4 linked regions of the Homo sapiens genome follow. The protein of the gene in region 1 purifies or fractionates together with the protein of each later gene. This does not show direct contact. Each region holds a gene or a part of one and is shown on either strand. Other genes may lie near its edges.

Evidence for each region.
Region 2: the proteins of ECHDC1 (region 1) and RMDN1 fractionate together in Homo sapiens (co-fractionation; one large-scale study listed by BioGRID). This does not show direct contact.
Region 3: the proteins of ECHDC1 (region 1) and PPP2R2C purify together in Homo sapiens (co-immunoprecipitation; one large-scale study listed by IntAct). This does not show direct contact.
Region 4: the proteins of ECHDC1 (region 1) and SLC2A12 purify together in Homo sapiens (co-immunoprecipitation; one large-scale study listed by IntAct). This does not show direct contact.

The regions. Positions count from the first base shown.
Region 1 is NC_000006.12:127,333,610-127,337,109, forward strand, and holds part of ECHDC1 (ethylmalonyl-CoA decarboxylase), read right to left. Parts: intron 1-3,500. UniProt on the Homo sapiens protein: Decarboxylates ethylmalonyl-CoA, a potentially toxic metabolite, to form butyryl-CoA, suggesting it might be involved in metabolite proofreading. Acts preferentially on (S)-ethylmalonyl-CoA but also has some activity on the (R)-isomer.
Region 2 is NC_000008.11:86,474,768-86,477,686, reverse strand, and holds part of RMDN1 (regulator of microtubule dynamics protein 1), read left to right. Parts: intron 1-362; coding exon 363-393; intron 394-2,090; coding exon of another isoform or gene 2,091-2,152; exon of another isoform or gene 2,153-2,293; intron 2,294-2,733; coding exon 2,734-2,867; intron 2,868-2,919.
Region 3 is NC_000004.12:6,375,115-6,378,614, forward strand, and holds part of PPP2R2C (protein phosphatase 2, regulatory subunit B, gamma), read right to left. Parts: intron 3,459-3,500; coding exon 3,293-3,458; intron 818-3,292; coding exon 705-817; intron 1-704. UniProt on the Homo sapiens protein: The B regulatory subunit might modulate substrate selectivity and catalytic activity, and might also direct the localization of the catalytic enzyme to a particular subcellular compartment.
Region 4 is NC_000006.12:134,046,125-134,049,624, forward strand, and holds part of SLC2A12 (solute carrier family 2, facilitated glucose transporter member 12), read right to left. Parts: intron 1-3,500. UniProt on the Homo sapiens protein: Insulin-independent facilitative glucose transporter.

The DNA of each region.
Region 1 (3,500 bases):
GCTTGAAATTGACCATGGTGGGACTACATGACATATCAATCATACTCTCTTTCTCTTACACACACACACACACACACACACACACACACACACACACACACACACAGTTTACCAGTATACCACCAGTTATAATGTATGCATTTGCTCAACCTTAGAATATACTGTCAGTTTTTTAAAATAGCTGTACAAATGTATATTCCCACAGGCAGTGAAAGCTCCAGTTGCTCCACAAGTATCACTTCTTCTTTGTTTTTTCTATTTTAGGCATTCTAGTGGATGGTATCTTACTGTGGTTTCATTTTGTGTTTCTATAATGTCTAACGAAGATAAACCCCATTTTCTTATGCTTATTGGTCATTTGCATATCATCTTTTGTGAAGTTCCTGTGCAAGCTTTTTGCCCATTATTTCTATTTATTTGCCTTTTTATTAATTTGTTAGAGATCTTTTATTCTTCTGCTCACAACTTTCCTAAAACCTACAAGACATGAATCTCACATTTCTATCTCTAATTCAGACCTTATGCCTGTACTCCTTAGTATTGCCTAACAGAAATGCAATCCCTTACCCCTCATTTCTAGATTTATCATAGGCTTCTCAAAATCATTATTTAATCCTGAACTCATACTTCACGTAAAACCCATTACTCCTTCTTTCCCTGAACTATTCATTGTATCATCAACCCTGTAATCTATGCCAGAAAACCTCTAAATCAACCCAGTCTCCTTCTCCACCACTATTTGGAGGTCCGTATGCAATGGCCCTCCAAAATGGTTACTTCCTTCTGATCTTTCCCTCTCCTATTACTAATACAGTTCAAACTTCATTACATATAATCTGAATTAATACAACAGTCACCAGTTAGTAGCATACTGTTCTTTAGAGTAATGTGGATATGATTATAATCCAATCAGGACATTTCAAATTTAAGGTTTCTCAGTAGCTGTCTACCAAAAGGATCAAGTCCAAAGCTTTTTTTAAATTCTTACCTAAATCCTGAATCTCTTCTCGTCTGATATCTCTACACAATCAATACAGAACACCAAATAACCAGAGTCCCACAAATTTACCATGCTATTTTATATTATTGCTTCTCCCCTATATTGTTCTTTCCTCCCTCATTAACCTGGTAAATCCCCAATCATTTTTAAAAACTGAATTTCTATATTTCCACCTAAAAGTGATTCCCCAAGTAAAGATAATCACTCCCTTTATTTATCCCAGCTCAGTATACTGCAATAATGTTCCATTTTAACACATTCCTCAAATCATTTCAATTTTTCATTTGTTTTTCTCAGTTGGAAGGATGCTTCCTGAGAGTATTCTGAGGTACATACTTTGTGTCACTAGTGGCTACAGTACTTAATACATAAAAGGTACTTACTTAATAGTTAATGAGGGAGAATGTAGGCAAGTAAAAAAAATAACTCATCACGCAGCCAAAAGGAATGCCACAAACTTGTTTTATAGCTTTAAAAATATATCTAATATGTGAGTTATAAAATGGTATCAGAAACTGACAGAGAACATATAAAGGTTACAATACAATATCTGGTTTCCACTTTAAGTCACATGGCCTTCAAGTGACATTTTTACCAAAGTGTTTCCAATGAATACTTACCTGAACACACAGTGGGATGTAATCCCCTCAAACACATATATTTCAAAAACTTGAGAACAGTATTTCAAAACTTTACCAACTAAGGTGGCTTATAACTACAATATTGAAGATACCAAGACCTTTCTTAAATCTCCTCAAGGAGACTGAAGTGTAACTCAGATAAATTGTGACCTAATGCATTATATTTTAGAGTGTGACAAAAAAAGTAGCGGGGTGCTTGTCATCTTAAAAAATGGTATCTAAGAATAAAAACTTGATGTTATTTTTCCAAGAAAAAAAAGATGTTCTAACTTGCCATCATAAATCTTTGATAGGACCTGCTTTTAACTGTCATAACTTTATTCTTTCCCTTAATTTCAAATCTGTTATCGTCTTTCTTTGTATCCTCCCTCCCTCCCACCAAAAAAGTCACCAGTTGCCAGCAGCTATGGTTACCGAATAAAGAATAATGAAAGCACTGGGTGACCTACTTAATGAATTGTGATTAATAAGGTTTGGGTCAATGTGATATACAAAACTAATAAGCAACTAATAAGGAAAGTGGTCAAATGTTACAAGTTGCAAAATATCTAAATATTTAGTATTTTCAATACTTTAATGTCTTCATCTATTGGCAATTCCATACTCCTTTTCCAAAACTCATACAGTATAACTTATGAGACATCCTTCCATCCCATCACCTGTTCTGTCAAATTAGAAAATGATACGGTATTAACTGATTCTATGGTATTAACAGATTTTAAGGTATCTAAGGCCTCCTGAAGAACTAGAAAGCTAGAGGGAACAATGATCAAACATGATTTTGCAACATTCTAGGATATTTTCAGTTAATTCAAGGTACCCTGCAAGATTTTTAAAATAAACTTCAAAATAAAAGAATCTAATTAGAACATGGAAATGTTTAGTGACACAATAAAGGCAGAATGAAAGTTTATATCACAGATGTTCTCACCACCTAATTTAGTGCAATAATAGGTACTTTACCAGTACTACATAAAATTACCGGGCATGTAGAAGAATGAGAGGATACTGTGAAACTAAATAAAATTTTTAAATGCCAAAAATTACTGCCATATACTTAAATAATAGATTATTTAATTTTAAACAAATGATTCACTTGAAATAATGTTCCTGCAAATATTATTTTCATTCACTGAATATTATTCCCCATATTTAACTTATCTCTTTCCCTTATATAGCTCCATTACCCAAAACTGCAGTCTGGTTCAAAGACCTATTTCCCTGCTTTCCCAAAGGGAAGTAAAAGTTCTGTCTATGGAAAGGAAGTATTTCTGAAATTATTACCATTAGTTATCTACCATTATTGGAAAATGAGCTATCCTGGTCAAATAAACTCTCTCTTTAACTGGAAAGCAAAACTTTCCTGGGCAAGGACAAATTCTGTGGTTGAGAGTTTTCTTGCTCTAAGGCACACAGAACTGTATTTTTAAATATTTTACCCTGAAGGAGAAATAAAGTGATAAGCATAGAAAATTCAAGTCTACGGAAAATGGAAGCGGGGAAAAGTTTTACAAATAAAATGTTACCAATTACAAAGTGTGAAGTGGTTATGAAAAAAACACCAAGGATTTTAGACACTTTCTAAGTTATCACTCAAATGTAAATATCAAGTTGCCTCAAAATCTCTTAGCTAGTGGAAGCAACTTAAACTAAAAATTTCAGACTTTATTGAGAAATGCCAAGCAATGGGGCTTGAAACAAATTGGTTAACCACACTGAGGACTAAGCTCTGATTTTTTAATCTTGCCCAAATTCCCACCTAAGGGGTCTGGGGAGTCATGCCCTACAAACCATAAATTCTCATCAGATGGGTTTTATTTAACCCTGTATATTGTGACTTACTTTTCAATCTGACTCTG
Region 2 (2,919 bases), on another chromosome or scaffold:
AGCTTTTGATTATATTTTGTTTTTACTAAAAATCACTAGTTATGATTTAAGAGAACTGTCAAAATAGCTGAGTTACACGTGATAATGTTCTTTCCTTTCTGCACATGATGTTAGTTTGGTACAAGTTCTAAACAGCAACCAAGTTATTACCAGAAGTAGTCCATATATTGTAATCTTGATGATTGAAGTGTTACGTTCACTTTGGGTGTTAACTCTCACTGTTGAAGAAGTGACCATTATTTTAAGATGATTTACTTCCTGACTTAAATATAATATAGCAGTAGATCTTTGAGACAATGCTTTTTTAATATTGTCTTCTTTAATCTTTTTTATTATGTTTGGGCTCTTTGTGTTTTTGACAGGCCTTAGGCTACTTTCACAGGGCAGAACAAGGTAAGGTATTTTTGATTACACATATTAATATAGTTAAAATTGTATGAATGCTGAATATATACTATAATAGCAATGTCTAAAGCAGTTGTTTATTCTGTTATACTTATTTTTGTGCTAGATACTGTAAAACAATTTTTAAAGTCTTTATTCAGTAAAGATCACCTGAATGAGAAATAGGCTGCTATTGAACTTAGAGCTGCAGTTCTGGAATGTCTATCATTTGATGTAATTCTGCTTCCTTTGTGAGAGCAGTCTCTGACATGGTAATTGTCTTATTCAAGACTGCACATATTGGCCAGATGTGGTGGCTAACACTTGTAATCCCAGCACTTTGGAAGGCCAAGGCAGAAGGATCACTTGAACCCAGGAGTTTGAGACCAGCCTGGGCAACATAGCGAGACCTCATCTCTACCAAAAAATAAAAATAAAAATTAGCCAGGTGTGGTAGCACACACCTGTAGTCCCAGCTACTCAGGAGGCTGAGGCAGGAAGGTCACTTGAGCCCAGGAGTTCCAGGCTACAATGAGCTGTGATTGCACCACTGCACTACAGCCTGGGCCACAGAGTGAGACTTGTCTGAAAAAAACAAAAAAAGATTATGCATCTCATTAGAGGCATTTAAATGGGAATTCTGCTATTCAGCCAGGCTAGTTCTATTGCAGATATTGTGAAAAAGAGTTTCGGGTTATGTTTGTTTTGAAAAAATGACTAGTCCTATGAAACTGCCACCAGCCCATCCTAAATTTATCCTTTTTAATATTCATACACCAAGTGGGGGAGATAAGAGACATAAGCATATGATACCAAATAGACCATAAAAACCATTGAAATATATTCTATAAAACTTAATCAGGAGAAGACATACCATGTTTATTAAATTTGAGATCCCACACATAATGGACTTGTTCATTTCATGATAACAGTTATCTTCTACAGAATTTTATCTGAATGTTTTATCTCTGTAATTCATCAATTCTGATTTATTCATTATTACCTTCACTGATACCCTCTCTTGATCATACTGTTTCACATATCATGAATATGAATCTAGGGATGACTTTTTTTAACAGATTTAAAAGTTAATTACAAAGTAAAAATATAGGACCTTAGAGACTTAAGGGTTGGGGGTGTTGAGAAAAACATGGTCCTACCCTCATGGAGCTAAAATAATCCCTGGTAACTTCAGTCATTCTTGAGTGACCTTACCTTATTTCTTTCTGGCCTATATTCAGTTCAGAGGCTCCTCTGATGCCCTTAGTATCTTTTATTTTTCCAGTGATACTTATCACTCAATACTATGAACATTTACATGTGTAAGACTGTACATTCTGAGAAGATGTGGACTTTGTCTTTTCTGGCTCACAATTGCACACTCATTACTTGGCACAATGCTTGGCAAATCTGTTGAATGACTGAGTAAATAGATGAATGATCGGATGATTGAATATACGAATATATTTAACCCCAGGACAACTTAAGTATATCAACATGGCATCACACAAATCTGCTCAAATAAAAGAAGTAAAACAATTTTGGTTAAGGAGCAAATGGAGTTAATCATTAATTGTATACAGGAAAAAGTATGCTTTGAATACAGAGGATCTCAGATTGTTAGGGGGACACTTTGTGAAGAATTAAGTTGGTGAGATAATTCCATGTTTTCATTCATAGGCTTTCTGTTTATGCTTTTCTTTCAGCCAAGAATGTTCTCCACTTTTTTTTTTGGTTTCTTGTAGCAGTTCAAAGTTTGTATATCTAGTAAAGCATTCCTTTCATTTTTATATTACATTTAGTTGTGTTCATGTTTCTCTCTTCATTATAAAGTTGAAAAAAACAGAGGTTTTGTTTCATCCTCTATGTTTAAGTATAGCTGACATCCAGTAAATGTTGATCAAATATATATATGTCATCATCATTTCATTCACTTATTCAGCCGATGTACACTGAATGTATGTTATGTTTCACACACTGTTGTAGGCACGTGGGGTACCATAGGGAACTAAAGAGATTAAAAAGAGTATTGCTGTCCTCAAATAGCATACATTCTATCGGGAGCTTCAGCTTCTCATCTATAAAATGGAGATACCTACTTACAAAGTTGTGAAAATGAGAAATGTGTATAATGCAGTGCCTAGCACATTTGTAGATGTTTATTCATTGGTAATTATTATTTTACAAATATTTGTTTGAGATATAAACAGTTGAACAAAAGAGAATTCCCATTAGTCTAATCACTTATTGACCACACAAATTTATTGAAATTTAGACCTCAGAAACAAACCTTTAAAAATAAAAGCAACACTGTTTCCTCTGAGATCATTTTTTCTTTCTTATGTGCAGTGGATCCAAACTTCTACAGCAAAAACTTACTTCTTTTAGGAAAGACATACTTGAAACTACACAACAAAAAGCTTGCTGCTTTCTGGCTAATGAAAGCCAAGGACTATCCAGCACACACAGAGGAGGATAAACAGGTAAAACATCTCCCATAAAGTAAGGCAGAAAGGTTTTGAGGCACTATTAAAT
Region 3 (3,500 bases), on another chromosome or scaffold:
TCTTGGGACGGGGGGTGGGGCAGGGGGCACCAGCACCCTCATTACTCAACATCGAAGCTAATCGGCTGCCCACTTCCTCAGAATTTATTTGTGCAATTTGCCAGTCATTTAGGCCAATGTATTTAAACATTTATTTCTTCTTCTCAGGAAGAGCACTGACTACTGCTTTATATTTATGGCGGCTCACTGGATGCTGGGCACGTGTGTGTCTGTTTCAGGGTATGTCTGTTTCAGGCCTTTGTAGATGCTGAAGGCCTCACACGGTCCAGGCTTCCTTCTGCCCTCAGTAAAGGACTCAGGAGCCACAAAGCTCTGCTGACCCATTCTCTTTCTGCCTCTGCCTACTCACTCAGCTGAGCAGTTTTAGGTGAGTTGCTGTCTCTCTCTGGGCCTCAGTTTCCCCCTTCTTATAACAAGGGATTATCTGCCTTGCTCTCCACCCTCAGCTATAGGTGAAAAGCACTTTACAGCCATACACCACCCCTGCATGCTCACAAGAAGCCTAGAAGAAACGTGGTCATCTGTATGCTGCTGGTGAGGAAACTGAGGCAAGGGGCAGGAAGACGCCCGTGGCCGCCCAGCAGCCAGCAGCCCAACCAGGGTCTGCACCTGACTCTGGCTCAAATCTCAAAGGCTTTTCCAGCCCTAAAATCCTCAGGTGTAATAAAGAGGCGTGTGCCTGCTTCCCCCTCACCGGAGCTCACCTGCAGTGACGTCACCGTGGACAGGTCCTTAAGTTTCCCCTCTTCATCCTTCAGGTTGTATCCTTCGGGCCTTTTATCTCGTTCGGTAATCTTCCATAATTTGATAGTTTTATCTTTAAAAACAGAACAAAATAAAGCGAGTCACATAATTAAGCAGCCGGATGGAAGAGAAGATCCACTTTAGAAGGTGAAATCATGAGGCACCTCCTGGGGAAGGAGGGGGTTCTGCCAACAGACGGCTTTGGACCAGAACTGCAGCTCTGTCTCGAGGCCTCCAGCCTTCGGCCTCCCTGCAGATTTCGGAACGGCCAGCCTCCGCAGTCAGGTGAGCCACTTCCTTAAAATAAATCCCCCTTTCTCTTTCTCACTCTCATACCCTACTGATTCTTTTTCTCTGGAGAACCCTGACTACTACAGGAGTCAAAACAAATAGCACCATGTTGATGAGAAGGAACTGGGAAGAGAACTGAGAACTGGGGTCAGTGGAGCATCTGAAAGGTACCCAAGGCCCTGCCATTAGGAAAGAGTGAAGCCAGGATTCAAACCCAGGTGGGAAGCTTTGAGGGGAGCGGAGTGTAGGGAGTGCTGAAAGATGACCTTTTCTGTAGAGAGGCAGGAAGAAAGTGACATGTCTTTTTTTTTTTTTCTTTTGAGACAGGGTCTCACTCACATCACCCAGGCTGGAGTGCAGTGGCACCATCTCAGCTCACTACAGCCTTGACTTTACCGGTCTCAGATGATCCTTCAATCTCAGCCTCCTGAGTAGCTGGGACTACAGGCTCTCACCACCACACCTGGCTAATATTTTATTTTTTTGTAGAGATAGAGTCTCACCACGTTGCCCAGGCTGGTCTCAAACTTCTGGGCTCAAGTAATCCATCCATCTCAGCCTCCCAAAGTGCTGAGATTACAGGCATGAGCCACCGCATGTGGCTGACACGTCCTTCTTAAATATTTTCAAAAGGAGCAGGTGCATGGGGACAGGACGAGGCTCCTGTCCCCCAGGGCCTGCCCTTCGGGAGGATCTCTCATGCTCTGCTGGCTCAGGTGACAGATTTGCTGGGCAGGGCCCCTTAGGGGACACAGATCCTGCCTTTGAGGTGCATGGCGGGAGAACACCATCAGAACAGCAGGTGCCCAGAGAGGGGGTGAACCGGAGTTAAGAGGAGCCAGGGTGTCACAGGAGGGATGCCTGGCTCAGTGGAGAGGTCAGAAAAGGCGGGCACCCAGCAAGGCTTATGGGATGAGGAGGGAGTTGGCCAGGTACAGGGCGAGGATAGCCTTCAGGCACAGGCGGGCTGGCAGAAGCTGCGCCTAGCCATGTTCGGGAGAGCCTTGGAGGCCCCGCTGAGGAGCGTGGACGTCCTCGGGGAAGGCGTGGGGACAGCACCTCGAAGCCTGGCTGGTGCTTGTGCAGCGGTTACTGTTCTCAGGGGGTTGAGTGGGCACCATTTCACGGACCCCAGAAGGGAGATGTGTCCACCCTGCTGGGGCTCAGGAAAGCAAGGTCACTGCCCAAGGGAGGCAGGGCAGGGACAGAATCCAGGTGTGTCCTGGCTGGGCACAGTGGCTCATGCCTGTAATCCCAGCACTTTGGGAGGCTGAGGCAGGCGGATCACCCGAGGTCAGGAGTTCGAGATCAACCTGGCCAACATGTAGTGAAACCCCGTCTCTACTAAAAAATACAAAAATTAGCTGGGCATGGTGTTGGACGCCTGTAATTCCAGCTACTCGGGAGGCTGAGGCAGAAAAATTGCTTGAACCCGGGAGGCGGAGGTTGCCGTGAGCAGAGATCGCGCCACTCTACCCCAGCCTGGGTGACAGAGCAAGACTCTTGTCTCTCAAAAAAAGAAAAAAAAGAATCCAGGTGTGTCCTACCCGACCCCAGGCTGCCTGGGTCCGCAGGGGGCCCAGGTGAAGGAGGATGGGCAGGGGGCGTGAGTGGGGGACCCAGGCCCATGGTGAGCCAAGCAGGACAGCCCCAGCCACTCCCTCAGAGTGGAGCCTGGGAAGCAGGCGTCAGGCCGAGAGCCTCCGGTGCCTGAGGGGTACATGCTCCTCCCTGAGGCAAGAGGATTAAGAGGCCGGCCGGGGTCCTAAACCAAGGCTCCTCCCACTGCCCCGCAAGGCCGCGGTGACAGCCCCAGTCTAGGGGTCTGGATTCGGCGTGGGGAGGAGGGGTTCACTTTGTGTCAAATATCCCCCGTGTCTGCGACCTGCATCCTTGTCCATCACACTCCCTCACCCCAAAGCAAAGGCCTACAAAGATGGCTCGGATGGCTCTATTCACAGCAGGGGGCAGCCCTGTGTCTGGCCATGGGGAGCTTCTGAGAGGGTCTGGCATACTCACTCATGGGATTTACATGCTGCTCAAAAAGGGGGGCAGCCCTGTGTCCAGACACAGGGAGCGTCTGAGGGGGTCTGGCATACTCACTCATGGGATTTATATGCTGCTCAAAAAGGATATTATTTTCTAGGCGTTCTGAAGACATAGAAAAATGCTCACAATATAAGTGAAATACAAACCAGCATTTGGTAGAAACATCTACGGCCTGTGCCCATGCAAGCGAGGCCGGGCAGCGCCTCACCGTTGGTGGACAGGAGTGAGTGGGCGGCGTTCTGCTGTGGGAGCCACTTGATCTTGTTGATCTTCTCCTCTATCTCCAGGCTCTTGAGATAGTCAAACTCCGGCTCGTGGCTCTGGAAAGTGCTGTACACGTCGTATTCGCCCTGGCTGTGGGGCGCATTTTTACTCTGCAGGGAAACCCGGAGAAGGGGCCTGAGCACCGTGACCTG
Region 4 (3,500 bases), 6.7 Mb from region 1:
TTTTTAATTAGTATTACTCATAACTCCCAACTCTAACTTCCATAAAGTGTGGAAATGTGTGTGGGAGCAAGACATTTTGTATAAAATAATAATGGGCACTGCTAACAGCTCCAGAGCCCAGTGATGCCAGGCAGACCTGAGTCATGAGTTGTCTGAGAAGCAGCTACTTCCAAGGCAATCACAATTTAACAGTTTAAAATTAAATTACACTTGCTTTACTTAAAAAATATATTCCTAAAAGTCAAACAAGAATTGCATTTTTCTCCGTGGAATTTTGGCAAAACAGTATAAAATAAATCATTGTTCAAAAATAATGAAATCTCCTAAAACTAGAATGATGTAATAAATTATTTTAGTCTTACTATTATTTCTACTAAGTTGTTTAGAATAATTAGGTGGGCAGCGGTGCCTCACGCCTATAATCCCAGCACTTTGGGAGGCTGAGGCGGGTGAATTGCTTGAGGCCAGGAGTTCGAGACCAGCCTGGGCAACATGGTGAAACCGTCTCTACTAAAAAAAAATATATATATACAAAAATTAGCCGGGTGTGGTGGTGAGTGCCTGTAATCCCAGCTTCTTGGGTGGCTGAGGCACGAAAACTGCTTGAACCCAGGAGGTGGAGGTTGCGGTGAGCTGAGGCTATACTCCAGCCTGGATGACAGAGCAAAACTCTGTCTTACATTTTTAAAAAGAATGATTAGTATTACTGGGGCATAGTCATTTAGCAAATGCATAAAATAAGTGTGCTACAACATGGGAAGAAAAATGATACCAGTGTGCAAAGGCAAAACAAAATAATACAGAAAAAAAATTTGAATTTATGATTTACTCTAAAGGTAATATATTTGACTCAGTTTCAGCTGGGAAGTATTTTGGGGGATGTCACGTTCAGTGACATTAACTGATATTGAGTACTTTTGAAGGGAAGAAGGGATGAAAAATCATCCGCATTTGATATTTGGTCAAATAGCCTCTTGGGAAGGAGCCAATTCCAACTTTTCCTTTCTCATCACCATAACTTGGTATCTTTTAAGTGGCTTCCATTGCATTAATTTTTTCAATAACTCATCCTTCTGGGGGAGACTGTTCATGAGAAAAAATACTGAATGAAGGAGCTCTGACTCTATTCAATTTTAAAATCTTATATAACCCGTTCTTGCTCATACACTGAGTAAATAGCTGTTTCAACTGTTGCATAGTAATGGAGGGCCCTTTAGAGCTCTCAGAACTTTTTTAACCCAAAGGCTAGATAGTACCGAGAAAATGCTCCCTATGAAACCGTGATTCTAAAATGAACTATTCTTGAATGAATAATAAAATCCTACATACCTACAGCAATTAAAAATTGCAATTTCAAGTTGGTGGATTCATCTTTTATCTACACATGCAAATCTCAGCTTCCTTCGGCTGCTCCAAGGTAGATTCAGTGTATTTTGAGTTCTGTCTCTACCAACTAGTGTAAGCTCTAGACCACTAAAGACCACCCTCTTGAGAATTCACAGGAAAGATACCCTGTGGGCTCATATTCAGGTCCTATCAGCTACCACCAGGCCTATTCCTGGGCTCTCAGCTGCTTCAGCAACTGTTGGTAATCTGACAGAGAGAACGGTGATGTTGAGAATATTTAACAACTAGGACAGAGGCACCGACCTATCAGAATGGCTGTAAAAACTGGTTCAGGCATGCTGGTGTGCACCAGCTAATCTCAGCCTGCTCAGATGGGCCCAACCTCTTGGCCGGCTGCTCTCAGGCTGGCTTGGTCTGGCTCTGCCAGGCCCTGGCAGGGCAGGCTTCCTGCAGCGTGTGTCTGCTGCTGCTTCAGAGCCTGGGAGGGGGTCTGTGGCAACCTCTCTGCTCTCTCTGGGTGACACATCCTTAGAGAGGAGCAAGACCACTGCCGCGTACGATGCATAGCACCCAGAGTTTGCAGAGAAACATCTCCCACCATGTTCGCAGCCTTTTCCCTTCCCAAGAGATCCCAGAGGAGCCATTTGCCCAGTGCTCACAGTGGTGAAAAGCCTCAAATCTAGACTTTTGATGTGATTTCCAAGTGAGGTTAAATGTACAGTCACAGAGATACGCTGACTGGACTGAAAGGGGAGATATTTATGTTTAAATCTGGTCTCATGACCACACAGAAGAGCAAGTGGTCCTCCATAAATGAACACGTCTAAAAATCCTGTCATTTCCAGCCAGGCACTGTGGATCACACCCGTAATCCCAGCAGTTTGGGAGGCCAAGGTAGGCGGATCACCTGAGGTTAGGAGTTGGAGACCAGCCTGGCCAGCATGGTAAAACCCCATCTCTACTAAAAATACAAAAATTAGCCAGCTGCTCAGGATGCTGAGGCACAAAAATCACTTGAAACTGGGAGGCAGAGGTTGCAGTGAGCCAAGATCGCGCCATCTTACTCCAGCCTAGGTGACAGAGCGAGACTTCATCTCAGAAAAAACAAAACAACAACAACAAAAAAACCTGTTATTTCCTTGGAAATACGTATCACAGTAGACACAATCATTGTTATCAGATGTTGACTTGTTAAATACATATGTTTTTAAAGCACTATAATTTTTGTCACGGGTTTTGATGCTTAATTGTTTTTAATATATAGAAAGTGTGGAAAAATGGGAATGGCCCAGCATCAAAAACTCTGAGATGCCTGGGTCTGCCCAAGGTAACTGGCCTCTTACTAGAATCTGTCTTCTCACAACCAAAGCTCTGACATCTGCCCAAGCTGGTTGGCCTGACTCCCTCTTCCCTAAGGATGAGTTTGTTTCCAAGTCTCCGTCTCTTTTACAAGTTGACTTCCCCTAGAGCTGACTGACGAAGCCTGAGAAAGCCAGGCCTGACGAAATTCCAGGGGGCCCATTTTAAGCTAAACCCGGGAGAACAGCACTCAGTAGGAACTTAGTTACAGTTACATCTTACATACTCACCACCTGCCCAGCTTCCATTTAGGAAAAAGGAGTTCACAGCTTTAAAAGCGTTTTGAGAACAACTGCCTTAGAATGTTCATCTGCTGAGCAGAAGCGTGTATTTCTTAAATTCCAGACTGTGGCATCTTCAGAGGGGATAAAGGACAGTCCTTTCAGCTGAGTTCGTGAGTCCCGTTCTTCATGTTCTGGGTCCCAGTGCCAGAGAGTTCTGCAGTGCTGACAACCTGCACTCATACAGTAAATATTGTTCTTGTTTTCTGAACCTTTGGACAGTTGGGGGTGAAGGGAAACTTAAGAGGACTCTGTCCCCAGCCAATTGTTTGGATCATGAAATAAAGGAAGCCTGGGAGCTGAAGTAGAAGTCAGTATTGAATCTCCTGGGCCAGAGGCCACCAGGGTCAGTTCTGCACCATCCTCTGTGTGACCGTGGGCCGATCACACATCTTTTGACCTCAGATTTCCCTTGTGTGAGTTGCTCCATCCGTCTAATATCTCACTTCATTTATATCTGTTGTCAACTCTAGGCACCAGAATTTCAAACTGAGCTTAATCCTGTCCTATATT